Regions from separate parts of the Homo sapiens genome. Here region 1 is linked to region 2. Evidence: fine-mapped expression QTL. A gene starts in region 2. The other region holds a variant in brackets. All regions are shown on one strand. Distances are from middle to middle.

Region 1 (2,920 bases), 140 kb before region 2:
CACATCTGCTTATCACAAGAATGCAATCATTCTCTCTTTCTTGTCTGAAAGCCTTGGTTTACAAAACACACACATAAAAAAAAATACTTATTAAGCACCTACTATATGCTACCTTTGTTGAACACCCACTGTACTAAGCACTGTTTATGCATTACCTCATGATCCCTAGCCACAGTTCTGTGTGATGGGTATTATTATTATTGCCATTTGACAGGATGAGGAAGCTTAGCCTTGAAGAGGGAAGTAACAGGACACAGGTGGCAAGTGGTAGGGCTGGACATCAAACCTAACTTGTCAGATTCCAATCCTTATTATCCCACTTCTCCTGGGAACATGTGAGTTTCTCAAGGATCAGGGTTCTGTATTCCCAGCCCTGGCAAATAATCTGACACACAGTTAGAAAAAAATAAATAAGTTTCAGTGGATAAATAAATGAGGACAGAAGAAGGATCTTTAACATAAATGTCTTAAGTTCAGCTGAAGTAAATGGGGAATAACTAGGTTGGAAAAGCATAGGAAACATAGCCCAGACTCTCTGGTTAAGGATCAGGAATAACATGTATGAGTTCCCTGCCCATATCCTCTACTTGGCAGCTTTCTGAAATTGGCAAAATTACTTGGTTTCTCCTTGCCTTGGATTTCTTACTGGTGTCATGGGGTTATTTTGGACATTAATTGAGGTATTCCAGGTGACATATTTAGCAGAGCACCAGATGCACACTCAGTACCAAATAAATTCTGGCTGTTGTTGCTTGTATTAGGTTGTAGTTTCTGAAAGAGAGACATGAAATAAGAGTAGCAGCACATCAGATGGTTTTGAGAGGGAATCTGTCAGAGCACAATTAAACATGGCAACTTGTCTAAGGTGTTCAGAACATCACCAGTGGAAAGCAGGATGTTTTGAAAACTGTTTCCGAGTAATCTGACACGCTGTACTCATTAAATGTCTCTTGAATATAACAATCCATTCCAGATGATAATGTGAACAATTCACAGATAGCTACATATGTGATCAAGATTACATATTTACTCCCATCTTGAGGACCAACATACATTTCTATCCTCATTTTCCCACCGATGAGCTGTCTTTTCTCTTTGTATTTAAGGTCCAGCTGGTTTTAACTTTCAAATTCCTGCTCAACCACTATTTTAATGTTCTCTTTGGCTATCTGTTTAGTTCTAGATTCTGGGCTTTTAAAAATTTTAACATTAGCCTTCCTTGGCAGCACCTTTGCCAGATTTTTCTTATGATACATAGAGATGTAATATGTTGACAAACTAATTAAAGGAGGAGCTGGTATTCAAATCCAGATCTGATTTATCATTCTGTAGAAATAAAATTTTATCAGGTATTGTCCGAAGCTCTCTCTCTATAAAGGTGAACAAAACCAAAATGGTTCTTAAATTCCTTGAGCTTAGTATTCAGTGGTAGAGACAGACACCAACACCAAGTAAATCGATTACTACAAATTTTGCTAAATGCCATGAAGACTTCAAAGCTTTCTGATATAAACACCAACTCAACTTTGACAAAGACATTTCCATAGCAAGAGCATCAAGGT[A/C]TTGAAAAACTGAACAACTTAAATCACTGTTTCTTATTCATAGAGAACTTTTATAGGCAACCACTACACTAAAGCCCAATATACATGTAACTGAGATGAGAATGATTTCTCTGATTAGATTCTTCCACTTTTATTTTTTTGTCTTAAGCACACATGGTTATGTCTAGTAAGACATAATTTGTACATGACTGGATCAAGAGGAAAACACTTCTAGCCTTCCTTTTAGTCTCCCAATTCACATGCAACATTTTACAATACTTGGCAGTGTCAAAAACTCTGGTAAAGGACATTGTGAGAAAAATTGTAGTAGCTCTACACCACAACCACAGCTGATTTAGGTCTTTTACTCTGGACTAGCTCTGTGGATCCTGTCTATCAGGCTGTCTGTCAGGATCCACAGAGCTAGTTCAGAGTAAATACCTGATATCAGGTGACGTGAATACCTGGCATCAGGTGATGTGTAAATACCTGACATCAGGTGATGTGAACTCTGATGACTGTTCCTGGATTTCATTCTACAGGATTATAAATGAACTACGTAAAGCAGCTGTTGTAAAATCTGTACTCTGCTTCTTGGAAAGTAAACAGGCCAGTAACGTGAGCCTCCATGTCCTAAGCGTGGGTTAGTATAGCTAAAATAACCTACATATTTTCTGGCTCATATATTGTGTTATCCACTGTAACTCTTGATAAAATCTCTCTACTTGGTATGAAGGATAGCTTTATTTATCCATTCATTCATTCATTCATATTTTTTATAATTCGAATCTATTCTTCTATTTTTGCCCTGAAAAGTAATAATACAATCTTTCTAGGTAGGCTACATTCTTGGCTTGTGTCAATATCAAATTTGTTTTGGACAAGATGCATCCTGAAAGGCAAAAAACAGTAACAGATAAGGCCAATGGAAAAAAATATTAAAAATCGGCAACTCTAGGTAAAGGGTATACAAATGTTCATTGTATTATTCATTCAAGTTATGTGTTGTTTTCCAATTTCTCAAACTAAAAAGTTGGTGGAAAAAAAGTTGTCCTTGTTGAACCTCATGATGAACAACACATATAGTGAAGTTCATGAAAGAAAGTTTCACAATTACAGTTTTGAGAAAGATAATGTATCTCTGAACCTAAGTAGTGATGATCTCATCCAGGAGTTAGAAATGTAAGCTTATGAAACAACTAATAATGCTAGTAAGAATACATTATCAGCATTCACATGCACTCATCGATTGTCCCTGGGGAGGCCATGGGCTGTGAAAGGCGAAAGGCCTAATCCAGGCTCTGGAGATCCTTGGGAACATAGCATACTTGTATGCAGGAGCCTTTGTTCTGCTTACAGTGGAGTAAAGTGAAAGACTT
Region 2 (2,920 bases):
AAATGACTTCACGTTCACTTTCTTGATTCTTACAAAAACCTGTGCTTAGAGTGTAGAAATATTTGTATCGTATTATATATGTGGGAAAATTTGAGCTCAGAAAGATTAAGTAACCTTGCTCAGGTTACAATCCCATTCAGTCGCAATTCTGGGATCAGATGCCTGGTCTTCCAACTTTGATTTGGTGAAGCTTCATCTTTTGGGCAAGTAAATAGGTAAAGAAGTATAGCACTTTCTTTGCCGATCTCCCTTATAGAAACACACTGCCCTGTAAACTTGGTCACAAAAACATTAATGAGAAGTGATGCATGAGCATAACTAAGTGATTTCATTTCCCTACCAATTTTATGATTTTAGATAATAAACAGTTTAACAGGGCCGGGCACGGTGGCTCACGCCTGTAATCCCAGCACTTTGGGAGGCCGAGGCGGGTGGATCACAAGGTCAGGAGATCGACACCGTCTTGGCTAACATGGTGAAACCCTGTCTCTACTAAAAATACAAAAAATTAGCCGGGCGTAGTGGCGGGCGCCCGTAGTACCAGCTACTCGGGAGGCTGAGGCAGGAGAATGGCCTGAACCCGGGAGGCGGAGCTTGCAGTGAGCCAAGATTGAGCGTGTTTTGCAAAGCGAGACACCGTCTCAAAAAAAAAAAAAAAAGCAGTTTAACATTTAACAGAAGTGGACAGCTGTTTTCAAATGGTGTAGGCAACGACAAACATTTATTTCACATACCTTATTCTCCTTAGTAGTCAGCTTCAATTGCTCCAGTTCCTCTCTATGTTTCTGTTCCATTTCTTTTTCCAACTTGGCCACATCTTCGGTGAGTTGCTTCCTCCTCTTCTTGTCATTCTTGGGAACAGCATTCTTCATGCCCTGAATTTTGGCTGAAAAGCCATTAAAATCATTAAGTCAGACACGCAGGAGTAAAAGGAGATGAGAAACAGGAACCAATAAGGGGATGGTAACGGGCGAAGGGTACAGAAAAAGTAATTATGGAAGAAAGAGTCATCACGTAACAGGCAGCTACAGAGAGAGAAGATCCCAGATAAAGCTGAGACCAAAAAAAAAAAAAACTTCATTAACAAAATCTTGAATATGTTTCGGTTGTTTGGCGAGATAAGAGAAGGAAAAAAACCTGACTGTAGCCAGTTTTAAATCTTTCCGGTATCCTTTCTGAACCTCCTAAACTGAGGCGGGTCCATTCAAAATACACCCATTAGGGACAAGTATCGGTAACTGGGGCAGGTATAGAAAAGGGAGGCATCGTGGGTTTGGGAGCGGACCAAGACGGCGGCTTCTAGGTATTTTCAGACACCTGCACCCCGGCGGCGGCGCGGGGTAGGGGGCACGCCGCAGGCCTCAGAAGGGGAAGCCTCTGAAGGTTGGGGAATTAAAGGGCCGCCGGGGTAGGTGAAGAGAGAAGAGGCCACTTGCTACTAGGGGAAGTCTAGGGTGATCCAGATAAGTCACGCCTTGAGATTCCCCAGAATCGACCCGCCACGCGCCCTTCCCCCAGTCGCGGCGGCTTCCAGATTCCCACTTCCTTCCGCCTCACCTTGCAACTCCTTCTTCTCTTTGCGATGCCTTCTCAGCAGCTGCTCTTCCTCATCAAGCTCTTCGGTCAATACCGCCTCCATGACGACCAGGTACCCCAGCACACGCGCTAGAAGAAACCTGCACCGGCTAGTAGGCACCTTCCACCCCTCAACCCTCACCCGGGGCTCCATTGGCTACGGCTGGGACCCAGCCCCGCCTTCAAGGCGGCACCGGATCTAAGCAAAGCCACTGCAAAGACGAGAAACTTAAATGGGGTGCTGCGCGTGCGCGCTACCGTGACCCTGCCGTGATGGGCGGGGCGGCAGGGGAGGAACCAGACTGCGAGCGGAGAAGCGGAGTTTGCAGCCTCGGAATTGGCTAGAGCGCCAGAGCCGAGTCAGCCATAAAGCTACGCGCTAGGCTCTTGGCCCTGACGTGAGGCGCGCAGAGATGGCGTAACGGGAATAGTTTTCAACGTCTATTTCATTCCCTGCTTCAGAGGACCTCTTTAATCTTTGATTTTGGTCCCTGTTTCTAAGAAAAGCAACTGAAAAGGTAAGAAAGAAAAATAACGCATTTTAATAAAGCCGTCGATAATTATCAATGGGAATCTTTGGGCTGTTTGGGGCTGTGTGGAATTAAATTATGTTTATTGTCTCCAAGGTCGTAATACCGCCCCTGAGAAAAAAGGAGCAGCGCTAAATAATCGAGAAAATGCCTCCTCTTGAAACGGATATAGAGATGGAAACAAGATATAAGAAGGATTGAGAATCATATAATACAGGAGCTTAAACACCTATGCGCGATGATAAAGAGGGTACTATTAGAGCGCTTGGAAAATACCAGGAAGTTGAGAGAGTTAACAGAAGGGCGCACGCTGGATTGGCCACAAAATCGAATTACTGAAGTAAGTGCAAAACGACAAATTGTCACAGAATACAGAGAAAAGGGGAAAAGAAATTAAGAGGAGAAAAAGAGAGATCTAGAGGGCCGGTCCAGGAGATACAATCTATGCATAATAGGAATACCTGAAACTGAGGACAGAGCAAGTGGAGCTGAAACAATAAAGGATCTACTTGAAAAAATTTTCCAGAATTGAAGAACGAACTAGATCTACAAATGGAAAAGGCTCATAGGATACCTTTAAAGTTTAATGAAAAGAAAGCAGCATCTAGACATATCCGGGTGACGTTTTTGAATTTCAAAGACGAAACATTTTACAAGCATCCAGTCAGAGAAAGCAGGTTACTTACAAAGGGGCAAAAGTCAGGCTGACCTCAGATTTTTCTCCTGCAATTCTAAATGCCAGAAGACAGTGGAACAATATCTAGAGTGTTAAGGGAAAATAATTTTGAGCCAAGAATTATATACTCTGCCAAGTT

Alleles and levels. Positions count from the first base shown, and alleles are read on the strand shown. Sizes are in standard deviations (SD) of each study's normalised expression.
As copies of A replace C in region 1, the expression in subcutaneous fat of the gene that starts at base 1,680 in region 2 goes down (small effect, 0.22 SD a copy in GTEx).

Evidence for each region. PIP is the estimated chance that this variant, and not a neighbour inherited with it, causes the effect.
Region 1: its variant is the best candidate, but not a certain one, in a credible set for the expression of OTUD6B in subcutaneous fat (GTEx, PIP 0.54).

The regions. Positions count from the first base shown.
Region 1 is chr8:91,204,544-91,207,463 of GRCh38, reverse strand. The region is part of intron 7 of LRRC69 (leucine rich repeat containing 69); the gene reads right to left. MIR4661 (microRNA 4661) reads right to left here and starts at 1,979; the gene lies at 1,905-1,979. The variant A/C (reference allele first, on the strand shown) is at 1,563.
Region 2 is chr8:91,069,104-91,072,023 of GRCh38, reverse strand. It overlaps OTUD6B (OTU deubiquitinase 6B), which reads right to left and starts at 1,680. Exons shown (of 7, transcript NM_016023.5): 1 at 1,558-1,680; 2 at 735-886. The coding sequence starts at 1,639. OTUD6B-AS1 (OTUD6B antisense RNA 1) reads left to right here and starts at 1,835. Exons shown (of 3, transcript NR_110438.1): 1 at 1,835-2,093; 2 at 2,202-2,445. RefSeq lists an enhancer at 1,453-1,632.